Linked DNA regions of Homo sapiens. The protein of the gene in region 5 purifies or fractionates together with the protein of the main gene of each other region. This does not show direct contact. Each region holds a gene or a part of one and is shown on either strand. Other genes may lie near its edges.

Evidence for each region.
Region 1: the proteins of SLC51A (region 5) and NIPBL purify together in Homo sapiens (affinity purification with mass spectrometry; one large-scale study listed by BioGRID and IntAct). This does not show direct contact.
Region 2: the proteins of SLC51A (region 5) and NCAPG purify together in Homo sapiens (affinity purification with mass spectrometry; one large-scale study listed by BioGRID and IntAct). This does not show direct contact.
Region 3: the proteins of SLC51A (region 5) and LSR purify together in Homo sapiens (affinity purification with mass spectrometry; one large-scale study listed by BioGRID and IntAct). This does not show direct contact.
Region 4: the proteins of SLC51A (region 5) and PTPRF purify together in Homo sapiens (affinity purification with mass spectrometry; one large-scale study listed by BioGRID and IntAct). This does not show direct contact.
Region 6: the proteins of SLC51A (region 5) and GOSR1 purify together in Homo sapiens (affinity purification with mass spectrometry; one large-scale study listed by BioGRID and IntAct). This does not show direct contact.
Region 7: the proteins of SLC51A (region 5) and FUT8 purify together in Homo sapiens (affinity purification with mass spectrometry; one large-scale study listed by BioGRID and IntAct). This does not show direct contact.

Annotation. Positions count from the first base shown.
Region 1 is NC_000005.10:36,970,769-36,974,268, reverse strand, and holds part of NIPBL (nipped-B-like protein), read right to left. Parts: intron 3,394-3,500; coding exon 3,233-3,393; exon of another isoform or gene 2,529-3,232; coding exon of another isoform or gene 2,418-2,528; intron 2,325-2,417; coding exon 2,228-2,324; intron 1-2,227. UniProt on the Homo sapiens protein: Plays an important role in the loading of the cohesin complex on to DNA. Forms a heterodimeric complex (also known as cohesin loading complex) with MAU2/SCC4 which mediates the loading of the cohesin complex onto chromatin.
Region 2 is NC_000004.12:17,820,979-17,824,478, reverse strand, and holds part of NCAPG (condensin complex subunit 3), read right to left. Parts: intron 1,497-3,500; coding exon 1,356-1,496; intron 833-1,355; coding exon 709-832; intron 1-708. UniProt on the Homo sapiens protein: Regulatory subunit of the condensin complex, a complex required for conversion of interphase chromatin into mitotic-like condense chromosomes.
Region 3 is NC_000019.10:35,259,002-35,262,501, reverse strand, and holds part of LSR (lipolysis-stimulated lipoprotein receptor isoform 2 precursor), read right to left. Parts: coding exon 3,438-3,500; intron 3,432-3,437; exon of another isoform or gene 2,681-3,431; intron 1,504-2,680; exon of another isoform or gene 1,100-1,503; intron 578-1,099; coding exon 521-577; intron 1-520. UniProt on the Homo sapiens protein: Probable role in the clearance of triglyceride-rich lipoprotein from blood. Binds chylomicrons, LDL and VLDL in presence of free fatty acids and allows their subsequent uptake in the cells.
Region 4 is NC_000001.11:43,607,383-43,610,882, forward strand, and holds part of PTPRF (receptor-type tyrosine-protein phosphatase F isoform 1 precursor), read left to right. Parts: intron 1-941; coding exon of another isoform or gene 942-953; intron 954-2,000; coding exon 2,001-2,116; intron 2,117-3,500. UniProt on the Homo sapiens protein: Possible cell adhesion receptor. It possesses an intrinsic protein tyrosine phosphatase activity (PTPase) and dephosphorylates EPHA2 regulating its activity.
Region 5 is NC_000003.12:196,219,534-196,223,033, forward strand, and holds part of SLC51A (organic solute transporter subunit alpha), read left to right. Parts: exon of another isoform or gene 1-858; intron 859-3,500. UniProt on the Homo sapiens protein: Essential component of the Ost-alpha/Ost-beta complex, a heterodimer that acts as the intestinal basolateral transporter responsible for bile acid export from enterocytes into portal blood. Efficiently transports the major species of bile acids (taurocholate).
Region 6 is NC_000017.11:30,487,408-30,490,907, forward strand, and holds part of GOSR1 (Golgi SNAP receptor complex member 1), read left to right. Parts: intron 1-2,718; coding exon 2,719-2,810; intron 2,811-3,500. UniProt on the Homo sapiens protein: Involved in transport from the ER to the Golgi apparatus as well as in intra-Golgi transport. It belongs to a super-family of proteins called t-SNAREs or soluble NSF (N-ethylmaleimide-sensitive factor) attachment protein receptor.
Region 7 is NC_000014.9:65,716,730-65,720,229, forward strand, and holds part of FUT8 (alpha-(1,6)-fucosyltransferase), read left to right. Parts: intron 1-3,500. UniProt on the Homo sapiens protein: Catalyzes the addition of fucose in alpha 1-6 linkage to the first GlcNAc residue, next to the peptide chains in N-glycans.

The DNA.
Region 1 (3,500 bases), on a different chromosome or scaffold from region 5:
AATATATTAGTGAGGTTATTTGTTTTAAAGTTTTCCATTTCTATCTAAAGTTCATCTACTATTTATCTATCTAATCTCAAGAGTCAGAAGAAAAAAAGCTAGTTATCTAGATCAATCACCTATCTCCCTGTTCTCTTTCCCCGGCAATCTAAATAACTTCTCACCTTGACAACACTTGTGGGATATGTATCTAACCTACAAATAGTTACTCTGGAAGTTTTTCTCTCTTTCAGAAGCCGGGTTTTTATCCCTGAAAATTCATACAATTTACAGAATTGAAATGGCTCATAACAGCTCAACTTTCACTCTATGAAAAATGTCCTTGATAGAAAACCAAACACCGCAGGTTCTCACTCTTAAGTGGGAGCTGAACAATGAAAACACATGGACCCAGGGAGGGGAATATCACACACCAGGGCCTGTTGGAGGGTAGGGGGCAAGAAGTGGGAGAGCATTAGGACAAATACATAATGCAGGCGGGGCTTAAAACCTAGACGACAAGCCTGGTGTGGTGGCTCACGCCTGTAATCCCAGCACTTTGGGAGGCCGAGGCGGGCAGATCACGAGGTCAGGAGTTCGAGACCAGCCTGACCAACATGGTGAAACCCTGTCTCTACTAAAAATACAAAAAAAATCACCCGGGCGTGGTGGCATGTGCCTGTAATCCCAGCTACTCAGGAGGCTGAGGCAGGAGAATCGTTTGAACCCGGGAGGTGGAGATTGCAGTGAGCCGAGATCATGCCACTGCACTCCAGCCTGGGTGACAGTGCGAGACTCTGTCTCAAAAGAAAGAAAGAAAAAAAACCTAGATGACGGGTTGATAGGTGCAGCAAATCACTATGGCACATGTATACCTATGTAACAAACCTGCACATTCTGCACATGTATCCCAGAACTTAAAGTAAAATAAAATAAAATTTTTAAAAAATTTTTGAAAAAAAAAAAGAAAAATGTCCTTGATAAATAGTACGAACACAATCAGTGAAAAAAAGATCTTTACCATATGAAGCAGATACGAGGTAAAATATCTTTATGTTTCAGATGGCTATAATTAGAAATTCTCATTACTTGAGAGAATATATTACCAGCTATGTTAAAATTAATTATAAGCTAATTTTAAAAAGTAGAAGACAGTTTTCTCTTCCAACAAACTGATAATTAAAGCTATTTGACTACAATTTTAAGTATTTTAAAAACTGGCTCAAACCTGGACTTAAATTCACAATTTTGTGAATCTGTTACAGATAGAAGACCATGCAAGGTTCTTTGAAAATTCAAAGATAAACTGAAATTCGTGTGCATAAAGTAGTAAAAGTTCTTACAAAAAATATAAACTAATAGCTTGAGGAGATTAGGGGAGGGCCCATGGAAGATCACCCATTTAACTTAGATCTGGAATAAAAGAATTTTAAAAGGCAGAGATAAAAGTAGACGTGAGAGATTTAAAAATTAACAGAACAGGTTAGATTTGATAAATGACTAAATAGTTGAAAAGAGGCTTTATGATAACTTAAAATTTTTAAGTTACAATGATTCAGGACTGGAATAGCATTAAGACAGATGGGATGGTAGAAAGAACAGTGAAAACCATTTTGAAGATGAATTGGAAATATCCGCTAGGTATGAAGGAAGTTTTGTCTGGAAATGAAGAATTAGAACTTGGGAGACAAGACTGGAGCCAAAGATTGATTTAGGAGTCTTATGCATGAAAATAATCAATGCTGTTAATGAAACTTAATAAAACGGCCAGGGAAAAAAGTACAATGAGTGATAAAAGGTCTAATAATAGAAATCTTGAGAAGAATAAGAATAAGGAGAGGAGCTAATGAAGAAAAAAAGTATCAATGAAAGAAGTGGGAGAAAAACAGATGGGCTCATATGAAATAAGTCTTTTTGGAGGAAAGAGGAAAGCTGATCAAAATTTTCAAATGTTTAAGAGAAGAACGTTGTGGTTTGAAAAGACCACTGGATTTATTAAAGAGAATGGATACTGGATGTATCCGAGAATACTATCAACAGATTACTGGGTAAGTGGAAGATAAATGAATCAATGAATAGGGACAGATTTAAATCCCATGATCCAGACCTGCTTGTACAGGTTTATTTTTTTTTCTACAATGAAAAAAAAATACAGAATAACTTTTTAATATCTGCTTTAGGAAGTCTGAGTTCTTTATTCAACTTCAAATATAAAATATACAGAAGGAAATTTTAGTTACAGTAGTACCTTTAGGAGTTCCTTCACTTCCAGCAGGGGAGCATACTGGCTGTGGAGATCTCAAGGGAAAAGATGCAGCATTCCTCATTGTTGAAGAATCTCCATCCTAAAAATAGAGTATACAATTTATCTTTTGAATGACAGGAGAGGCTTTATAGAAATCTTAAAAGAGAACCAATAAGAGACATAAATTACTGACAGGTAAAGTGTTGGAATTCAAAAGCATAATTCTTCTGCACTTTCCTGTTTTCTTCTTGGTATATCTTAGAAGAATTGAAATTGTATCCAAAAGAATCAACAGCCTAAGCATGGCAATGAATAAGAAAATTTGTATTACTAGTATGCTCCATTTTTGTTTGCTTTTTTCTACAAAAGGAGCTATGAATACTCTACCAGGTGGTAAATGACTTGAGGGCAGAGTTTATTGTCATCTGTGTTATCCTTAGACACATGCAGCTTACATAAATTACAATCAAATCAATAACAAGGCAAATTTCCAGAATGTGGAATATTTTAATAACATCAAGGCAATATTAAATTTCAGACACAAAACTTTGTACAAGTATCAGAGGGAAAAAGAGTCAAGTACTAATAAATACAGGCTCATTATCTAAAAAAAAAAAAATTTTAGTGTGAGCAGTATTAACCTAAAACTGAAATATTTCATTAAGAACCTAAACCTCAAGGTCAGGGGTCAGCCAACTTTTCATTATAAAGGAACAGAGAATAAATATTTTAGGCTCTGTGGGCCACATACAGTCTCTATCACATTTTTTTTTTTTTAAATAACTCTTTATAAATGTAAAAACCATTCTCACTTTGTGGTTCAGGCTACTGGTCACACTTGACCAATCCTGCTCTAGACTAAGCTCTGTATGTGCAGGAGCCATGTTGTACTCAGTACCCAGTATAATGATATACGGTAGGTATCATTCAAATTTTGAAATGGAAATACTAGGTTATATGACAAATATTAGAACTATTTTATCACCTTAATGATAATATATTACATACGTCACTACTTAGCCTGTGCACCATGTGTAGGTAGTCCTCACTTGAACCATGTCTAGGATTATCAGCATGATGATTAGCTGAATTGCCAGACAACGGACCAGAAACTTTATTATCATGTATGTTTCTCAAACCACCTGCAACAATGGGACTTGATACCGATGCTGAAATTAATAAGAATAAAAAAAGGTTTAATAAAAGATTCTTAACATTCTTGGAGAATAGTAATTATTCACAAATATTTTAAGCATATAGAAATTACAGAGAATAA
Region 2 (3,500 bases), on a different chromosome or scaffold from region 5:
GCTGCCTCCCAAATGAAAGTATTTAAGCAGATGCTGAATAACAACTAAGCATGTTGTAGAAGGGGTGTATATATAAGGAGAGGATGGAAGAGATGATCTGTGAATTAACCTGCAACTGAAATTATGTGATTTTTATGAAATAAATGATACAGATCTGTCTTTTTTGGCTATGCCAGAAAAAAATAACACTGAAATAGTATTATAGTAAACAATTATTTCTGTATTTATCAAGCAATACAGAACAATACCTTTATGAACAATACCTCATTGAAAAATGAAAGGTAGATTTCATTGCTATTCTTATTTGCAGACAAGTAAAACAGCAGAATAACTTGTCCAAAGCCACAAAGCCAGAAAGTGTCAGATGAGATTCTAAACCCTAGTATGTACAATTTGAGTAAGCTCTCAAAAACACTAGCACCCAGTGCCTCATGGACAAAACCATATCCCCACTTGTAACTTCCTACCAAACCTGCTCCATTTCAAACTGATTCAACAATAACAGGTACACTAAGAGGAAGAAGGTGACATTTTTCAAATATTCTGTGTATGTAAGAGATAGATAATGGTTTTAAGAAATTTTAAAACTCATTAAAGAGACGAACCTAAAACAAAACAGACAAAACAAAAAGTTCTAAACAGAAAATAAGACAGTATTCAATGTCATTGACCAAAACCTCTTTATCAACAATGAGGAAAATTACTTACAATTTGTGTTCTCTTATTATCATCTATAATGATGTGGAGTAGTCTTTCAACAAGAAAAGAAACCAGGGATATTGGGATTGTGGGTAAAATAAGAATCTCCTGTAAAACAGCCAGCAGTTTTTTTCTGCAGTCAAAAAGAACTAATTTAAATATTATTATGACAAAACATGTTTTATCTCTAACATTCACCTACTCTGCAAACTTAATTACATTTGCCTCAGTTCTTTCACTTAGGTTTATCACTATAATAGGTACAAAAATCTGTATGTACAGACTTTAGGTCAAATATTCTTATTCCACACAAAAAAAAATTTTTATAAAACACCCTATGATTTTTAATAAATCAACATGATAAAATGACAAAATACCAGAAATGATTAAACCTTTTAGAAAATGCTACTAGCCTTAATAAATCTAAACAGAAACTTTTAACCAAAAACTGCAATTTCATTGATTTATTCTGAGGAAATTGAACTAGAAATATAAATGTATGTGTATATATGGAAATATGTAGAAGGGAAAAGAAAACTTTTTATACCACTTTAGAGAGCTAGGGTAAATATGTTTAGTTATATTGTAAAAGGACTATATTTCAATATAAGAAATTAGAAGGGCAAATTAGAATGAGTGTTAACATTTAGACATACCTTCCTCCTTCTTCACTGGTATCCAAAGACTTAATAATTAGAATCAATTGTTGACCTATGAATTCTTTTGTCATCAAATTTCCAATATAGGAAAAATCACCTCTGTGTTCTTCATTAACAACTGGAATGCTCTGGATGTAACTAAAACAAGCAGAATTAATAAAGTAGAATCTTTTAAGAAACATCAAACAAGAGTTGATTCCCACCATTAGGTCAGAAAAGGGCCATTTTCAGGTCATATTCGTCTAAATACATATCTATGCCATGTAATTTGGTCTACAAACTCAATTCTATGCCACTGTCATTAACTTTTGCAAACAAACTTATTGATGAATCAAAAGAATTTGAAAATGTATTTTCAATAATGACTCAAATTTTCTATGGGAAATTTTCAAAAGGTACATATTTATGTCTAACTGATAACTAATTATTTCAATGTCACTAGCATTCTCCCAATTACAGATGGTCCCCAATTACAGGTGGCCCAACTTACAATTTTTCAACTTTAGGATGAGTTTATCTGAGAATTAAACTCATTTGACTTATGACATAGCCCCACTTTAAGTCAAGAAGCATCTATCAAGTTCTGAATCCCTTACCCAAAAATCCAATTAGTCATAAAGATCTAATCTTCAGCCGGGCACAGTGGCTCACACCTGTAATCCCAACACTTTGGGAGGCCGAGGCAGGTGCACCACAAGGTCAGGAGTTCGAGACCAGCCTGGCCAAGATGGTGAAAACCTGTCTCTACTAAAAGTACAAAAAAATTAGCCAGGCATGGTGGCTACTGTAATCCCAGCTACTCAGGAGGCTGAGGCAGAAGAATTGCTTGAATCCAGGAGGCAGGGGTTGCAGTGAGCCGAGATCGCACCACTGCACTCTAGCCTGGGTGACAGAGAAAAACTCCATCTCAAAAAAAAAAAAAAAAAAAAAGATTTAATCTTCATCATGCCTAATTATCATTCTTTTATTTTTAAAAATTGTAACAATAGTTACACAAGTAATCCATGAATACAATTATCTTTTTTGAAAAAAATCAGAAAAATAGAAACAATTTCACAAATTTTTATTATTCTTTCTTAGAAACCCTACTAATCTCTGTATACACCACCACCATCAGCTACCTTTTATTTTAACTTTTTATTCTTACTACAGACATCACCACCCAAACTAAAGCCCTTTATAATCCTCACCAAGAAGGCTGTATATTCAGTAGCCTCTGCTTTTTGTGTGGAATAAAAAAAGCTACTTAAAAGCAGAACTAAGAATTGAAGCTTAGACAGCGAAGTGCCTTTAAGATGGAAGTAACATGAAAAACAATCCTGATCAAAAATGTCATTTAAAAAATGTCAAAAATGTCGCCGGGCACAGTGGCTCACACCTGTAATCCCAACCACTTCGGGGGGTTGAGGCGGGAGGATCACTTGACATCAGGAGTTCAAGAAGAGCCTAACCAACATGGTAAAACCCCATCTCTACTAAAAATATAAAAACCAGCCAAATGTGGTGGCAGGCACCTATAATCCCAGCTACTCAGGAGGCTGAGGCAGGAGAATTGCTTGAACCTGGGAGGCAGAGGCTGCAGTAAGCCAAGATCACGCTACTGCACTCCAGCCTGGGCAACAAAGCAAGACTACGTCTCTTAAAAAAAAAAAAAAAAAAAAAAGGCGGGGGTGACAAAAACCAAGTTACAGAAATTGTGGTATAATGTATAATGAGTATACTCTCATGTATTACAAAGTGATGACCAAGAGTAAATAAAAGCTCATAAATTTCTGGCCACAAGATTAGGACTTTTAAGACATCAGCCACCCTTTGGGTTCTAGTAGGAAACTAAGGAAAACTACACTACCGATAACTATCAAAATCAACCAATCAGTAGAGTTACTCTTTTCTGACAGGCTAAAAGAAAACCTTCATTTATACTCATCTTTGTATCTCTCCCCACTTCTCCAGCCCAGCTTTAGCAAAATGCACAGCATCTTGACTGAGTTTTTTTTTTTAAGTAAATTCAAACAGTTGTTTAATTAATAGATTAAAAATCCTCAACTGCATAAATACAACTTAAAACTGACCCACCAATTTTAGTTACCATGAAATCCTAACCATTTATAAAGACATTTATTATAATGAAGAGACCACTCA
Region 3 (3,500 bases), on a different chromosome or scaffold from region 5:
ACAGGGCTAACGGCACAGCAGGGGTACATGGTGCGGAGCCAGCACTGAGGTCGGGGACGATTTGCAAAGCTCACCAAGGAACCTGCAGCCCTGGCTGGATTTTTTGTGCCAGAGGCTGGGCACAGCACACTCCCCATTCTACCATCCCGGCCATTCCCCAGTTACGGCCCTCCCCCAGGTGCAAAAAACACAAGGCAGAAAACGAGGCAGCCTGCACAGAGGGAGACAGACTGCAGCCCCCAGACCAAAGAGAGAGCCAGCTGCCCAGACGCCACACCCTCAAGAGCACCGCAGGTGCCAGTCACAGAGCCCTGGCCTGCACCCCAGGCTCTCCTCAGCCCAGCCTAGCCTAGGCCCAGCGCCAGACCACTAGATGCCTCAGAGCCACAGTCAGGCCAGGTTAGTGAGGGGTCCACAGTGAGCAGGGTTTAGTGGGGAAGGGGATACTAACTAGAGTCAGAAGCAGTAGGTGATGTATGGGAGCTCCCGAGAAGCCCAACTCAGGATCCACCCCCCGTACCTTCTATGGGCCCCGCCTGAAAACCAGGTAAGAGCTCAGCCACCCCTGAGGTCCTCCCTGGAGGGACAAAAGAGAAACAGATTATGCTGGCCAGAGCCAGCCCAGGCTGTGCCACCCCCGAAAGCCCAGCTCCAGGCTGGCCAAGTGCAAGGTGTGCCCTGAAGCGGGAAGGGGCTGGGGGCTGAAGCCCTAGTGCATGGCTCCTACCCTCCACCCGCCCACATGTGGGTGCTTATAGGTAAGAAACTCCCATTGCATAATCCACCTGTGTTATGCCACGAGGGCTCCAATACAAATCCCAGGGGGTTCTGAGGGCTCTACCTCAGCTTGGGCACCCTAAGTTTCCCTCATTCATAGGTCTTAGCACCCCAAAGGGCTCCAACCACGGTGATAGGGATGTCCTGTTCCAGCAGGCACAGGGACCTAGGGCCCACGAAATAGGATCTCAGCTCTGTCGCCCAGTCTGGAGTGCAGGGGTGTGATCATGGCTCACTGCAGCTTCAACCTCGTGGGCTCAGGCGATCCTCCCACCTCAGCCTCTGGGGTAAGTAGCTAGGGCTACAGGCATGTGTCACCACACCTGGCTGAAATGGTTTAATTTTACTTTACAAATCTGAACACAAATTAACACAATATACAGGAATAAACTCTTTGTGACAACATAATCACACATTTTTTTTAAAACAGGAAGGGACCCATGAAGGCAAAAATACCCACATATGAAAGTCATATGCAGTCCTGGTTCTGGGACCCACAAGGTCTCCATCTCTACTCATGCACTGTCACATTCACGCATCTCAGAGCCGGTTCTTGTCTTCCCTCGAGTGCCCCTGGAGCTCTGAGCCCCACCAGTGTTGTGTCTGAGGGGCCTCCACAGGCCCAGCTCTGCACCCACGAAGCCCTCCCCAGAGCTCATGCACTTGGCACTATAGGCCCTCGCAACAGGACAGAGGCATGTCAGTCACAGCTCTCAAAGCGTGGTCCTGTCCACAAGGCCAAAAGAAGAAATTTTAGAATAACACTAAGATGTTATTTGCCTTTTTCACTTGTTCTCCCATGAATGTCCAGTAGAGTTTCCCAGGCTCCCTGATGCCATCATCGCCCTGATGCCTAATGGACTATATGCGTGTGTGTGTGTGTGTGTGTGTTTGTGTTTCTTGAGCCAGGGTCTCTGTCACTCATGCTAGAGTGCAGTAGCATAGTCACGGCTCACTGCAGCCTTGACCTCCTGGGTGCAAGCGATACTCCTGCCTCAGCCTCCCAAGAAGCTGGGCTCACAGGTGCATGCCACCATGCCTGGTTAATTTTAAAATTTTTTGTAGAGTCAGGGTCTTGCCATGTTGCCCAGTCTTCCTTGTGTATCTTGGGCTTGAAAAATCTCCCCATTTTAAGGCCGGGCAGTGGCTCATGCCTGTAATCCCAGCACTTTGGGAGGCCCAGGTGGGTGGATCACGAGGTCAGGAGATCGAGACCATCCTGGCTAACATGGTGAAACCCAGTCTCTACTAAAAATACAAAAAAAATTAGCCGGGTGTGGTGGCGGGTGCCTGTAGTCCCAGCTACCTGGGAGGCTGAGGCAGGAGAATGGCGTGAACCCAGGAGGTGAAGCTTGCAGTGAGCCGAGATCGAGCCACTGCACTCCAGCCTGGGCGACAGAACGAGACTCCATCTCAAAAAAAAAAAAAAAAAAGGAAAATCTCCCCATTTTAATTCCTAATATGTTAAGCAACAGATAGACATAAAACCCACAGAAACAAACAAAAGCTCTTGGAGACCCTCGATAATGTTTTAGAGTGTAAATAGACCTGGAGACTAATTTTGGGAACTGCTGATGCAAATGGTGCATTTTACCGAAGAACAGGCAGAGGTTCCTGGGTCACTGGTGCACGTGTTCCATCCCCCACACATGAACTCTGTCTTGCAGCCCAAGTACCCCCCAGTCACGTGCTCATTCACACATGTGAAGATGGCAGTGTACAGCCCAGCGGCATCACTCATGCAGAGCACATGTCATACAAGACTCCATGTGTTGGCTTACAGCAGGGCACCTGGCCGATGGCAACATCCCCCTAACACAAGGAGGCCTCCCAGCCACACGGACACCCCGCCCTGCCCCTGGGTGTCTGGAATCGGCTTCGTTTCAGCTGCACTCAAACTTACACAGTGTGTGTGCCATGCAGCGCCATCCCAGCAGGGCACACGGCAAAACCGCTGTGCTTTGGCGAGGGACTCGGGTGAGATGAGGCCTTGGGGATGTAGCAAGAGGTGGGTCGATTTTGCACACCATCAACTGTCCTCATTCACTGCCCATGGACTCTGACCACGTCTGGATTTTTTTTTTTTTTGGACAGAGTCTCACTCTGTCGCCCAGGCTGGAGTGCAGTGGCTTGATCTTGGCTTACTGCATCCTCTGCCTCCCAGGTTCAAGCAATCCTCATGCCTCAGCCTTCTGAGTAACTGGGATTACAGGCATGTGCACCACCACGCCTGGCTTTTATATTTTTTATAGAGACGGGATTTTGCCACGTTGGCCAGGCTAGTCTCGAACTCCTGGCCTCAAGTGATCCACCCGCCTCGGCCTCCCAAAGTGCTGGGATTACAGGCATGAACTACCGCACCCGGACCCCAAGTCTGGATTTTTTTTAAAAATGAGACTTTGAAAAGGCAGAGTCTCCAATTGTCTCCACTCTTCTCTTAGTTTGGCTTGGGTGATTGGAGGCACTGTGGGCCAGTGGTCCCTGCCTGGGGTGCAGGGCACAGGGGAGCCTAAGTGACTGGCAGAGCCTGGGGGAGAGCAGAGCAGGCGACAGAGCCCAGAGGGTAAGCTGGAGGGCAGAGGGCGGACACAGGGGAGGGCAGACAGAACAGAAGCGGACAAAAGGAAGGGCCATGCCTCCCCCTTCCCAGGCCCACTCACCAAGGACGATGAGCTCTGCGTAGGCCTCATTGTTCCCCTGGAGGTCCTGGGCTGAGACCACGG
Region 4 (3,500 bases), on a different chromosome or scaffold from region 5:
CTAGAGAGGTCGAGCTGGAGGCCCACAGGCCATGGATGCTCACTAACAGACATGACTGATGGCCTGCTGTGCCCGTGCCATCCGCAGCGGCCTCAGCCTCAGTGTGTCTTTCCCACTCAGTTCTCTATCGGCAGTGGCCACCACCTGCCCTAGGAGTCTCCCTTCCTATCCGTGCACCTTCCAGCCTGAAAGGGATTTCCAAAGATTTAACTTTGTCACTCTCAGTTTAAAACCTTTTGATGGCTGCCCACGTAAAGCCCACCCTCTTTAGCCTGACAGCCAAACACCTGGCTAATCTGACCCCTGCCACACTCCTGACATTGCGACACTGAACTCATTCAGTGTTCAGGCCCACACAGGGTGTGCCCTCTGCGGATCTCCCTCCCCCTGCCCACTTGGCAACAGCAATCTCATCGTTCAGGACTCAAGTCCATGCTCTGGTGCCTGCAAGGCCTTGCCTGGCCCCTACCCCTTCCTTGCACAGCTGTCCCCTGTGATGCTCCACTGCAAACGCAGCTGGGCCTGTGTGCCAAGCCTTCAGCCCCCAGCACTGGGCTGAGCCCACAGGCATGTCAGTGAGCACCTGGCAGATGAAGATATGCTAGTCTGTGTGTCTGAGCACATCTCTGCACCATGCAGGAGAGCCTGTATCCTGTGTGCCTACCCTGGACCCACTGTTCCTTCCTAAAGAGTCCACTCCTTCCTCCCAGGGTGGATGGACCTGTGGGCGGGTCCCTAAGGAGTGTCCCACAGATGCACTCATCCTTCCCACTTCCACCTGCATTCTGGGTCTGTCCAGAGAGGTAGACCCCCTCCCTGTGAATGTCATGTGGGTGCCATATAAGGGGCCTGCAGGGTCCCCATGTCATTAGAGGGCTGAGTGCTTGGTGGAAACTGTGACCGTTCCTTTCTTCTGTCCTTGCTTGTCTTTCGGGACCTAGTAAACAAGAAAGGTAGGAGTTGTTCCTTCTCTCTTCACACACCTCCCCCTCTACTTCTAATCCTTGGGCCAGCAGGGAGGGATGACGCTTTGACCAGAAGTCCCCTGGCCTATGGCTTTAAGCAGCAAACTGTCCAGTCAGCTCAGCAGGCTCCCTGGTTCAGGACTGAGTCCTCATTGGTGTGAGGAGGCAGTTTCTGTCTCACTCTTGCCAGTTCAACTCTGCAGAGGATGCTTCTTCTCTGGGGCACATACATAATACAGACTGCATTGCTTTCCCTGAGCGTACAGAGCTCACCAGAACCATCACCCGGCTCCCAGTTCTCTGAGAAGTTGCCTAAGTGCTGCGAGAGACAGTCTCGCACAGAGCAAAGAGCAGTCACTGTGTGGAACAGCAGAGAGGCATGTCCTTGTACCCACCTGAGCACACTCACTCAAATTCTTCTTTCCGAAGCACATGCGTCTGCAGACCACAAGTAGCCTCTGGCTATTTGTTGGCAGCTGAATCCTATGGTCTGTCTCTGACCCTGTCCTTGTAGATGGGAAAACTGAGGCCAGTGAGAGAGGACTCTGCCCAGCTAGGGTGACGCCTTTCCCGTCCCTCCCCTGCTGCCCTGGGCATTTACCCTGATACTCTGAGGGCCAAAAAGCTGGGGCCCTGTCTCCTGTGCTGTTTGTGTATTTTATGTGTCATTTGCATGTTTGTTCCCGGTGGTTCCTGCTACTCAGCTGGGTGGCCTTGGAGATAGCAGTCACTGTCCTGCAGTGACCTGCCTTCTATCCAAAGGAGCTGCTCGCCCCTGCAACCCCTTCCTCCCTGCTGCACTGCCCCTCTGCTCACGCCACACTCCTGCTCTCCCTACCCCCTCCCTGCCCTGTGTTCTCTCATGTCAAGGCTGTTCTGGCCCTGGCTCCTCCGCGCTCAGAGATCCTGGGAAGAGGTGGGGCAGTAGGAGGACAGAGCCGTGGACATGGGGGCTCCTTGGCAGCCAGCCATGCCATGTGTCACTGTCTCAGCCTGGACCTCAGGTTCTCACCAGCCTCCCTTCTGTCTCTCTAGGAAAAGGACCCACTCTCCGTCCTCTAAGGATGAGCAGTCGATCGGACTGAAGGACTCCTTGCTGGCCCACTCCTCTGACCCTGTGGAGATGCGGAGGCTCAACTACCAGACCCCAGGTAGGGCACTCCTATGGCCTGTGTGCCCCCAGCCCAGACCTAGCAGGCCTGTGGGTCTGTTCTGCAGGTCTCAGGGTCGCCACTGAAGTTCCTGGGCCGCATGCACTTGTTCCTGCTCCTTTTCTTCCTTTCTGCCCTTCTCCCTGTGCTCATCCACTTTGGTTGGAATGACTGGGGAGCCCCCATATCCTGCAGCTGGACAGGTGCCCCAGGCCAGGACCCTCTTAGGTGGCAAAGCCACTTAGCCACTGCCTTGTCTTCAGTCAAGGCCTCTGAATATGGGCTGAGGACCTCCCAGAGCCCACGTCTCTGCCACAGGGTGGCCAGTGTCTGGCGCACGCTCTGACGCCTCCACATGAAAGAGGGGCATGTTAGCAGTGGGAGATGCCTCACCAGACATCTGTGGGGAGATGAAGTGCCTGCACCTGAGCCTTCCTGGAGGCCGACCCCAGGTTTACCATACCACGTACCTGCCCCTTCTCCTAGCCACTCTCATGGGGCTGTCCACCTCTTCCTTCTACCTGAAATGTTACTCCTCCCAACACCCAGCAGACACAGCTCAGACCTCTCCTCTTGCCCACACCCCCACAGGGTTAGGTGTCTCTTCTTGGCTCCAGGAACCTCCCTCCTTCTTCCTTTTGACGCCTCTCACAGTGAGCTGGGATTACCTCAGTGACAGTCTCTGAGCTCTGTGGTGCCAGGAACTGTGTCTTGTCATCCCCCATCCCTTGTATTCAGCGCACGATGGGTTCTTGTTGAATGCCTGTGAAATGAACACACAGACAAATGAAGGAATGAGTGAACTAATGCATACACACAGGGTTTGTGTATGTATGAGCTGGTTATTCTGCATGTCAAATTACCCCAAAACTTAGTGGCTTAAAACAACAATAATTATGTATTATCTGTCACAGTTTTTGTGAGGCAGGAATTCAGACAGGGGCACAGCAGGAACAGCTTGTCTTTATTCCAGAAAGTCTGGGCCCTCAGCCGGAAGACTTGAAGGCTGGGAGCTAGAGTCATTTAAAGCAGGGGTTGGCAGACTATGGCCCGTGGCCAAGTACAGCCCACCACCTGTTTTTGTAAATAAATTTTTACTGGCTGGGCGTGGTGGCTCATGCCTGTGATCCCAGCACTTTGGGAGGCTGAGCCGGGTGGATCACCTGAGGTCAGGAGTTCGAGACCAGCTAATGAAATCCCATCTCTACTAAAAGTACAAAAATTAGCCAGGTGTGTGGCCCCTGTCATCCCAGCTACTCAGGAGGCTGAGGCAGGAGAATCACTTGAACCCAGGAGGTAGAGGTTGCGTGAGCCAAGATCGTACCATCGCATTCCAGCCTGGGTGACAAGAGCAAAACCCCATCTCAAAAATAAACAAATAAAT
Region 5 (3,500 bases):
TCTGAACCAGAGCGGTTGCCAACTGCCAGTGTCCGGAGATGCCTGGTGGCCACTCTGTGGTTAGTGGCAGTAGGTGGCTGCTACATCTAGTTCCAGTGAACCTCCTGTTGAGAGAGTGCAGCTGGTGGTACAAGCCTTCCCTTACACAGCAGCTGTCCCCCCAGGGAATATTTGGCAGTGTCGGGAGACTTCCGGTTGCCACACTGGAAGGTGCTACTGGCATCTCGTGGTCAGAGGCCAGGAAAGCTGCTAAACTTCCTACAGGGCACGGGAAGAGCCCCCACAGAAAAGATTATTCAGGCCAAAGTGTCAATAGTGCTCAGGTTGAGAAACCTTGCCTCACGCAATGAAAACGGTTCTCACATTGCTTTGCTTCAGAATGTGCAAACGGAAACCCCAAGGCTGTTCAGAACAGGCCATTCTGAGTCTGCTAGTCCAGCAAGCCTCGCCGCAGGCAGAGTGGGGAGGATTTGGCCAGCGGGCCCTCCTGGGACAGGGAAGCTGCGAGGATGAGTTCGGGGACGCCCCAGGCCCAGGGGAGCGAGGTCTGGCAGGATTCAAGGATCCTGGTGGAAGAGCAGGGGACAATTGAGAGGGCCGGGCAGGAGAGGTGAGGCCCGCTGCGCGCCGGGCTGGCGGAGGAGCTGTGCTTTATCCCGCAGCGAGAAGGAGCTCGTGAAGGCTCTGAGGCTGGGAGTGGCTGGATGAAAGTCGTGCTTCTCGGCCATTCGTTAGTAATCAGGATGGACTGCAGAGGAAGAGGCTTAAGAAGCAGGGATGCGGCCGGACACCGTGGCTCATGCCTGTAATCCCAGCACTTTGGGAGGCCGAGGCAGGCGGATCATCTGCGGTCAAGAGTTCAAGATCAGCCTGGCCAATGTGGTGAAATCCTGTCTCTACTGAAAATACAAAAATTAGCCAGGTGTGGTGGCGCGTGCCTGTAATCCCAGCTACTCAGGAGGCTGAGGCAGGAGAATCGCTTGAACCCGGGAGGCAGAGGTTGCAGTGAGCCGAGATCTCACCATTGCACTCCAGCCTGGGTGACAGAACAAGACTCCGTCTCAACAACAGCAAAAAATAGGCAGGGATGTAAATGAGAGGTCGTTGCCCCGGCCTGCCATGCGGGAAAAGAGTCTGAGGCAGGGCAGTGGCAGGGAAAGAAGAGGAAGGGTTGGGAAACAGGCAGTTCAAAGAAAGAGCAGGCAATCTAGGAAAGACCTAGGCGTGTAAGTGCTGGTTCTGGGCAATGGTGACGGCACAGCCAGAAATAGGAGAAGCAGGAAGAAGTGCCTCTGGGAGGCTGTGGCGAAACTCCTTCCTCGCTTCATTTGTAAACTTTGTTGTTCCTTAATTTTTCTTTTTTTTTTTTTTTTTGAGACAGGGTCTCACTGTGTCACTCAGGCTGGAGTGCAGTGGTGCGATCTCGGCTTACCCCAACCCTCCACCTGCTGGGCTCAGGTGATCCTCCCACCTCAGCCTCCCTAGTAGCTGGGGACCACAGGCACATGCCACCAAGCCCAGCTAATTTTTGTATTTTTTTGTAGAGGTGGAGTTTCTCCATGTTGCCCAGGCTGGTCTCGAACTTAAAATTAAATGCTAAGAAAACTATTTCAGGCCAGTCACGGTGGCCCATGCTGCAACCCCAGGAGGTCGAGGTTGCAGTGAGCTATGATTGCACCACCAGCCTCAGCCTGGGCAACAGACCGAAACCCTGTCTCAATTTAAAAAAAAGAGAGAGAGAAAAAAAAGCTATTATTCTAGAAGAATGATTGAATCAATTTTTTTTTTTTAATTTTAAAATCACGGCTCACGGCAGCTCGAGCTCTGGGCTCAAGTGATCCTCCCACCTCATCCTCTCGAGTAGCTGGGACTGCAGGCACACACCACCATGCCTGGGCTAACTTTCAATTTTTGTAGAGACAGAGTCTGACTTCGTTGCCCAGGCTGATCTCAAACGCTCCAGCTCAAGCGATCCTCCTGCCTCGGCCTCCTGAAGGGCTGGGATTACAGGCGTGAATCACTGCGCCCGGCCTTAAAGCTACTTTTTATTGAACAAATACTACACGCCAGGTGCTTTGCTAAGAAGCTTAAGGAGAGGATAAGTAACCTGTCTATGGCCATAGAGCTATTAGTAAGTGGCATTTTACTTTGTTTTTGTTTGTTTGTTTGTTTGGTTTGGTTTTTTGTTTTTTTTTTTTAAGAGACAGAGTCTCGCTCTGTCCCCCAGGCTGGAGTGCAGTGGTGTGATCTCAGCTCACTACAAGCTCCGCCTCCCAGGTTCACGCCATTCTCCTGCCTCAGCCTCCCGAGTAGCTGGGACTACAGGCGCCCGCCACCACACCCGGCTAATTTTTTGTATATTTTTTAGTAGAGACGGGGTTTCACCGTGTTAGTCAGGATGGTCTCGATCTCCTGACCTCGTGATCCGCCCGCCTCGGCCTCCCAATGTGCTGGGATGACAGGCGTGAGCCCCCCCGCCCGGCCTGGCATTTTGCTTTGAACTCAAGTGTCTGACTCCAGTGCTCTACACTGTGCTCCTAAGCTACTGGAAGCAAATATGCAAGCATGGAAATAATTTTTGGTTAGAAAGCTGGGATTATGGGTGATTACTCTTTTTTCAAATTCTTATTTAATGTTCCTGTTTTCATTATTTTAAAAAGTAGTCTTTGCTATTCCAGAGACAGTGGGAAATTTAATAGTTGCTATAAGTATGATTATATTCAAAATGGTCAACTAGACAAGCATTTCCCAAAGTCTCAGACTCTTAATCCCAAGGAGTCCTTCATGGAAACAGAGTTCTGTAGGAAGTTAAGTTTTGTGACCAGGCACGGTGGCTCACACCTGTAATCCCAGCACTTTGGGAGGCCGAGGCGGGTGGATCACTTGAGGTCAGGAGTTTGAGACCAGCCTGCCCAACATGGTGAAACCCTATCTCTACTTAAAATACAAAAATTAGCTGGGCATGGTGGTGGGTACCTGTAATCCCAGCTACCTGGGAGGCGGAGGCAGAAGAATTGCTTGGATCCACGAGGCGGAGCTTGCAGTAAGCCGAGATCGCGCCACTGCACCCCAGCCTGGCGACAGAGTAAGGCTCCATCTCAAAAAAAAAAAAAAAGTTAAGTTTTGTAAAAGGTGCGTTCTAGACCCTCCTTTTGGAAATTTACAATGTAAATTAGCAGATTAAAAATGTCAGTATGCTCTGCAGGAATCATCACATTTAACCTTAATGCATTTCCAAAAATTCTTCAGCTGTGGAATACTTTTGTCCCATAGTGTCTATTTAGATGCCCTTTTGGGGAAATTGAGTTTAACCAGCAAAGAAGAGGCCATCTCCTAAGAAGATAGTTTGATGGACAGACCCAGTATCGGGCTATGGATGCTAAGGAACTTTTCCTTTCCTAATTAGAGTACCAAAGGCAACAGTTAGAAGACACTGCAAAACCATTTGTGTTGAACAGTCAGAATCTGCCCCACCCTCACCTTCATAAATGGAACGGCCC
Region 6 (3,500 bases), on a different chromosome or scaffold from region 5:
ACTGGAAACCATAACGAATGGCTAATTTGCTTACTACACAGAGATATAATAGAAATAAGAAAAAGACAGTAGGAAAATGGACAAAGGATATAAAATTGCTTACAAAAAAATGAATGGCCAAAACTATAAAAACATTTTCAGCAGTATTTCCAAATAAAAATACAGAAATCTAAAAGAGGTGATTTTTCACATGTCAGATTAGCAAATGTTGAAACATTTATAACCCATTATTGGCAAGAGTAAAAATTTAAAAAGGGTACTCATATATTGCTGGTGGGAACATAAATTGATGTAATGTTTATAGAAGGCAGTTTAGCACTACCAGAATTTAAATGAATGTGAGATTCTTTGATCCAGTTATTCTTTTTTTTTTTTCTTGAGACGGAGTCTCGCTCTGTTGTCCAGGCTGGAGTATTGGAGTGCAATGGTGCGATCTCGGCTCACTGCAGCCTCCACGTCCTGGGTTCAAGCGATTCTTCTGCCTCGGCCTCCCGAGTAGCAGGAACTACAGGTGTGCGCCACCACGCCCAGCTAATTTTTGTATTTTTAGTAGAGATGGGGTTTCATCATATTGATCAAGCTGGTCTTGAACTCCTGATGTCATGATCCACCCACCTCGGCCTCCCAAAGTGCTGGGATTACAGGCATGAGCCACCGTACCCAGCCCTGATCCAATTATTCTATTGCTAGTCATTTACTCCTTTTTTTTTTTTTTAAGCTCTGTTGAACTTAATAGACATTTACTCTTTAAATATACTTTTTTTTTTTTTTTTTTGAGACAGAGTCTCACTCTGTCACCCAGGCTGGAGTGCAGTGGCGCGGTCTTGGCTCACTGCAACCTCTGCCTCCCGGGTTCACACCATTCTCCTGCCTCAGCCTCCCGAGTAGCTGGGACTCCAGGCGCTCGCCACCATGCCCGGCTATTTTTTTGTATTTTTAGTAGAGATGGGGTTTCACCGTGTTAGCCAGGATGGTCTCCATCTCCTGACCTCATGATCCGCCTGCCTTGGCCTCCCAAAGTGTTGGGATTACAGGCGTGAGCCACTGCGCCCAGCCTAAATATAGTTTTTTTTAAAATAAAAGAGTTCAGTTTAAAAAATATATGTAAGAATGTTTATTGGCAGTATTTTTTTTTTTTTTTTTTGAAACAGAGTCTCGCTCTGTTGCCTAGGCTGGAGTGCTGTGGTATGATCTCAACTCACTGTAACCTCTGCCTCCCAAGTTCAAGTGATTCTCCTGCCTCAAACTCCTGAGCAAAGTAGCTGGGACTACAGGTGCGTTCCACCACACCGGCTAAGTTTTGTGTTTTTAGTAGAGACGGGGTTTCGCCATGTTGGCCAAGCTGGTCTCGAACTCCTGACCTCTAGTGATCCGCCCACCTCAGCCTCCCAAAGTGCTGGGATTACAGGCATGAGCCACCCTGCCTAGTCTTGCAGTATTTTTAATAGCAAACAAAATGAAAACAACTAATGTGTTTATCAGTAGGGAATTTATTAAATTGTGATAGTCATAAGATAATATTCTATGCAGCTATTAAAAAGAATGATGTAGATTTCTTTTTCCTAATATGGAAAGATTGCTTGATACTTTATGAAGTACAAAAAGCAAGGTGTACATCAGAATGTATATTATGACTTACTTGGCAAAGTGAAAGAAATAATAGATAAGCTTGTATATGTAAAAACATATTTCCTGGCCAGGTGCAGTGGCTCACGCCTGTAATCCCAGCATTTTGGGAGGCCAGTGTGGGTGGAACTGTTGAGGTCAGGAGTTCAAGACCAGCCTGGCCAACATGGTGAAACTCCATCTCTATTAAAAATACAAAAATTAGCTGGATGTAGTGGCACGCTCCTATAGTCCCAGTACTAGGGAGGCCAAGGCACTAGAATCGCTTGAACCCAGGAAGTGGTGTTTGCAGTGAGCTGAGATGGCACCACTATACTCCAGCCTGAGCGACAGAGCAAGACTCTTGTCTCCAAAAAAAAAGAAAATAATAATTTCCTGGAAGAAAATACAAAATGATGGTAACAGTTATGAGGTATGGAGCAGAATGTTTTGTTTTCCTTTGTTTCACCTTTATTTCTTTTGGTGCTCTTTTAATATTCTCCTCCATGTTTATGTGTTACTTTTGTTTTTTAAAAGGTCAACAGGGACTCTGGGAGACAAGATTTTGATTTTCTTCTTTATCTACATCTCTGAATTTATGAAAAGTAATGAAGTACTTTTAACAGTGGTACAAAAATAGTAGAAAATGTTTAAAGATTATTTTGTTCCTTATAATTCTCTTGATTCTGTTCTTTTTTGTTTAGGAATTAAATTTTTTGTGAGAGCTCCAAAATGATGAAATTTGAAAATAAGCTCTATTAAGTATACTACTAAGTAAAAAGAGCCTCTCAAGTTTTCTCCTAGACTATTTGAAGTTATTTTATCTCAGAATTTTTTTCTTCTTAATTCTGCCTCGTAAGACAGAGTACTAGGAGGTACAAAGGATAGTGATTTAATGGCACTGTTTCCCTAGCACTGAATTATTTTCACTTGAAAGAAGTTGGTCACTCTTCAGGAAAGTAATTTTAAAGTTATTTTTACCTTTGGTTAATTTGATTTCTTAAATAGCAGTTTTCTTGACAAATTTACAGTGTGATGACGATACATAACTGGTTCAGTGAGATGAAAATCCATAATTAGCTTCTGTTGAGACTGGATGTTGATTTATTACAGGATTATACACATGAATTCCATAAAACCAAAGCAAACTTTATGGCAATACGGGAAAGGGAGAATCTTATGGGATCAGTACGAAAAGATATTGAGTAAGTTACTTTTTATATTATTTTGTAGAATATTTATTCAGATTTGGCTTTAGGATATGTTCACGGTTAATTGCAAATTGAGTGGCAGAACCGTGGTTGAGATTTTAGGGTTTCCAATTCCCATTTCACTGTCTTTTTAACATTGCTGCTACAATGTCATCCTAATCTACTTTTCCATTTTTATCTCATGCTTCCTCTTACTTTATCATTGGCTCCTGCCAACCTTGACTTTCCTGTCTTAATTCAAAGTCCAGCTTAGGTGGTTCTTCATGGTTCTCTGATCTCTTACCTCCCACCCTAAGAATTATAATGTTACTTTTATGATCCTCTGCAGATGTGTCAAAGAAAAAAAAATTCTTTAATTGTAACATTATCAGTAACTGAAGCTCCCTATGTTTCTCTTCCTGATTATCACCTATCCCCTGGCCCTCTCCCTTGTCCCAACAGTTACATATTACAAACAGTAATATGTACAAACTCACTCATAGCCTTATGTTAAATTATTTAAGGACTCCCAACATTCTCATACTGATCTCAATCTATAATTTTAAATATTTGTTTTTTTCTTCTGTCCCTTCACCTCACCTTTAATGATCTATTCTAGCATTTCATAGCATTTTTGGAAATTTTTTTACAACTGAACACTACTGACAAAGTTAAGTCCCATGGGCGTCTCATTGAAGCTGAAGA
Region 7 (3,500 bases), on a different chromosome or scaffold from region 5:
CGATGGTCGCTGTCTCTTTGGAGCTGTTGGGTACACCTCCCAGATGGGGCAGCCAGGCAGAGGCACTCCTCACTTCCCAGACGGGGCGGCCGGGCAGAGGCGCTCCTCACTTCCCAGACGGGGCGGCCGGGCAGAGGCGCTCCTCACCTCCCAGACGGGGCGGCCGGGCAGAGGCGCTCCCCACTTCCCAGATGGGGCGGCCGGGCAGAGGCACTCCCCACTTCCCAGACGGGGCGGCCGGGCAGAGGTGCTCCACACTTCCCAGACGGGGTGGCCGGGCAGAGGCGCTCCACACTTCCCAGACGGGGTGGCCGGGCAGAGGTGCTCCCCACTTCCCAGATGGGGCGGCCGGGCAGAGGCGTTCCCCACTTCCCAGACGACGGGCAGCCGGGCAGAGGCGCTCCTCATTTCCCAGATGGGGCGGCCGGGCAGAGGCGCTTCTCACCTCCCAGACGGGGCGGCCGGGCAGAGGCGCTCCTCACCTCCCAGACGGGGCGGCCGGGCAGAGGCGCTCCTCACCTCCCAGACGGGGCGGCCGGGCAGAGGCGCTCCTCACTTCCCAGACGATGGGCGGCCGGGCAGAGGCACTCCTCACCTCCCAGACAGGGCAGCCGGGCAGAGACGCTCCTCACTTCCCAGACGGGGCGGCCAGGCAGAGACTCTCCTCACCTCCCAGATGGGGCAGCTGGGCAGAGGTGGCTCCTCACATCCCAGACAGGGCAGCTGGGCAGAGGCGCTCCTCACTTCCTAGACGGGGCGGCCGGGCAGAGGCGCTCCTCACCTCCCAGACGAAGGGCGGCCGGGCAGAGGCGCTCCTCACATCCCAGACGATGGGCGGCCGGGCAGAGACGCTCCTCACCTCCCAGACGGGGCGGCCGGGCAGAGGCGCTCCCCACTTCCCAGACGGGGCAGCCGGGCAGAGGCGCTCCCCATTTCCCAGACGGGGCGGCTGGGCAGAGATGCTCCTCACTTCCCAGACGGGGCAGCTGCCAGGCAGAGGCGCTCCTCACCTCTCAGACGGGGCGGCCTGGCAGAGGCACTCCTCAGTTCCCAGACGGGGCGGCCAGGCAGAGGCGCTCCTCACCTCCTTCTTTGTCCCTTTTTATAGTTTTTTTTTCTTGAAATCTATTTTGTCTATTACAGGTATAGCTACTCCTGCTCTTTTTTGGTTTTCATTGGCATGAAATATCTTTTTCCATCCCTTTATTTTTAGTCTGTGTGTCTTTATAGGTGAAGTATGTTTCTTGTAGGTAACAGATCATTGAATTTTGTGTTTCTTAGCTATTCAGCCACTCTATGTCTTTTGATTGGAGAATTCAGTTTGTTTACATTTAGTGTTATTAATAATAAGTAAGATCTTACTCCTGCCATTTTGTTATTTGTTTTCTGGTTATTTTGTGGTCTTCTCTTCCTTCTTTCCTTCCTTTCTATTTTCCTTTTAGTGAAGGTGATTTTCTCTGGTGGTTTGTTTTAATTTCTTGCTTTTTATTTTTTGTGTATTCATTGTATGTTTTTTGATTTGAGATTATCATGAGGCTTGCAAATAACTTATAGCTCGTTATTTTAAACTGATGACAATTTGGCACCGATTGCATAAACAAACATGCAATCAAAAAGAAGTCTAATAAATACTCTGTACTTTGTCCCCCCAACTTTTTAACTTTCTGTTATTTCTATTTATATCTTATGGTACCAAGTATGTCTTGAAAAGTTGTAGTTATTTTTGATCGGTTCATCTTTTAGTCTTTTACTTAAGATATCAATAGGTTACATACCACAATTACAGTGTTATAAAATTATGTGGTTTTTTGTATGCTTAGTATGACCAGTGAGGTACCTTCAGATCATTTTTTAATTGCCCATTAACACCTTTTTTCCTTCAAATTGAAGGATTCCCCTTAGCATTTCTTGTAGAACAGGTCTGATGTTGATGAAATCTCTCAGCTTTTGTTTGTCTGGGAAAGTCTTTATTTCTTCTTTAAGCTTGAAGGATGTTTTCACTGGATATACTATTCTAGGGTAAAAGTTTTTTTTCCCTCAGTAGTTTATGTCATACCACTCTCTTTTGGCCTGTAATGTTTCCACTGAAAAGTCTGCTGTCAGACATATTGGAGCTCCATGGTATGTTATTTATTTTTTCTTTTGCTGCTTTTAGGATCCTTTCTTTATCCTTGACCTTTGGAAGTTTGGTTATTAAATGCCTTGAATGGTAGTCTTCTTTGGGTTAAATCTGGTTGATGTATAACTTTCTTGTACTTGAATATTGATATCTTTGTCTAGAATTCGGATGTTCTCTGTTTCATCCCTTTGAATAAACGTTCTGTTCCTATCTCTCTCTGCCTCCTTCTTAAGGCCAATAACTGTTAGATTTGCCCTTTTGAAACTATTATTTAGATCTTATAGGCATGCTTCATTGTTTTTCATTCTTTTTTCTTTTGTCTCTGTTGACAGTGTATTTTCAAATAGCCTGTCTTTAAGCTTACCAATTCTTTCTTCTGCTTGATGACTTCTATTAAGAGACTCAGTATGTCAGCTGCATTTTTCAACCCCAGAATTTCTGCTTGATTCCTTTTAATTGTTTCAACCTCTTTGTTAACTTTATCTGATAGGATTCTGAATTCCTTCTTTGTGTTATCTTGAACTTCTTTGCATTTCCTCAAAATAGCTCTTTTGAATTCCCTCTCTGAAAGGTCACATATCTATGTTTCTTCAGGATTTGGTCCCTGGTGCCTTATTTAGTTTGTTTTTCAAGGCCATGTTTTCCTGGATGGTCTTGATGCTTGTGGGTGTTCATTGGTGTCTGGGCATTGAAGGTATTTATCGTAGTCTTCACAATCTGAACTCTTTTGTACCTGTCTTAGAAAGGCTTTCCAGATATTTGAAGGGAGTTGGCTGTTGTGATCCAGTTTTGGTCATTGCAGCCATATCTACATTAGGGGGCACCCCAAGCCCGATAATGCTGTGGTTCTTACAGACTTGCAGAGGTACTACCTTTGTGGTCTTAGATAAGGTCTAGAAGAATTCTCTGGATTACCAAGCAGAGACTCTTGTTCTCTTCCCTTACTTTGTCCCAAACAAACGAGTCTCTGATTCTGTGCTCCAAGCCTCTTGTAGTTGGGGGAGTGGTGACACAAGCACTTTTGTGGCTACCACCACTGGAACTACACTAGACCAGACCTGAAACCAGCATAGCACTGGATCTCACCCAAGGCCCAGTGTAACCCCTACCTGGCTACCTCCTGTGTTGGCTCAAAGTTCTAGGGCTCTATAATGAGCAGGTGGCAAAGCCAGTCAGGCTTTTATCCATCCCTTCAGGACAGCAAGCAAGTTCCCCTGGGCCCCAGGCAGGTCCAGAGATGCCATCTGGGAGCCAGCATCTGGAGTTGGAAACCTTAGAACCCTATCTGGTCCTCTATTCTCCTGCAGCTGAGCTGGCATCCAAACCATAAGGCAAAGTGCTTCCCACTTTTCACTCCTCTTTTCATAGGCAAAAGAGTCTC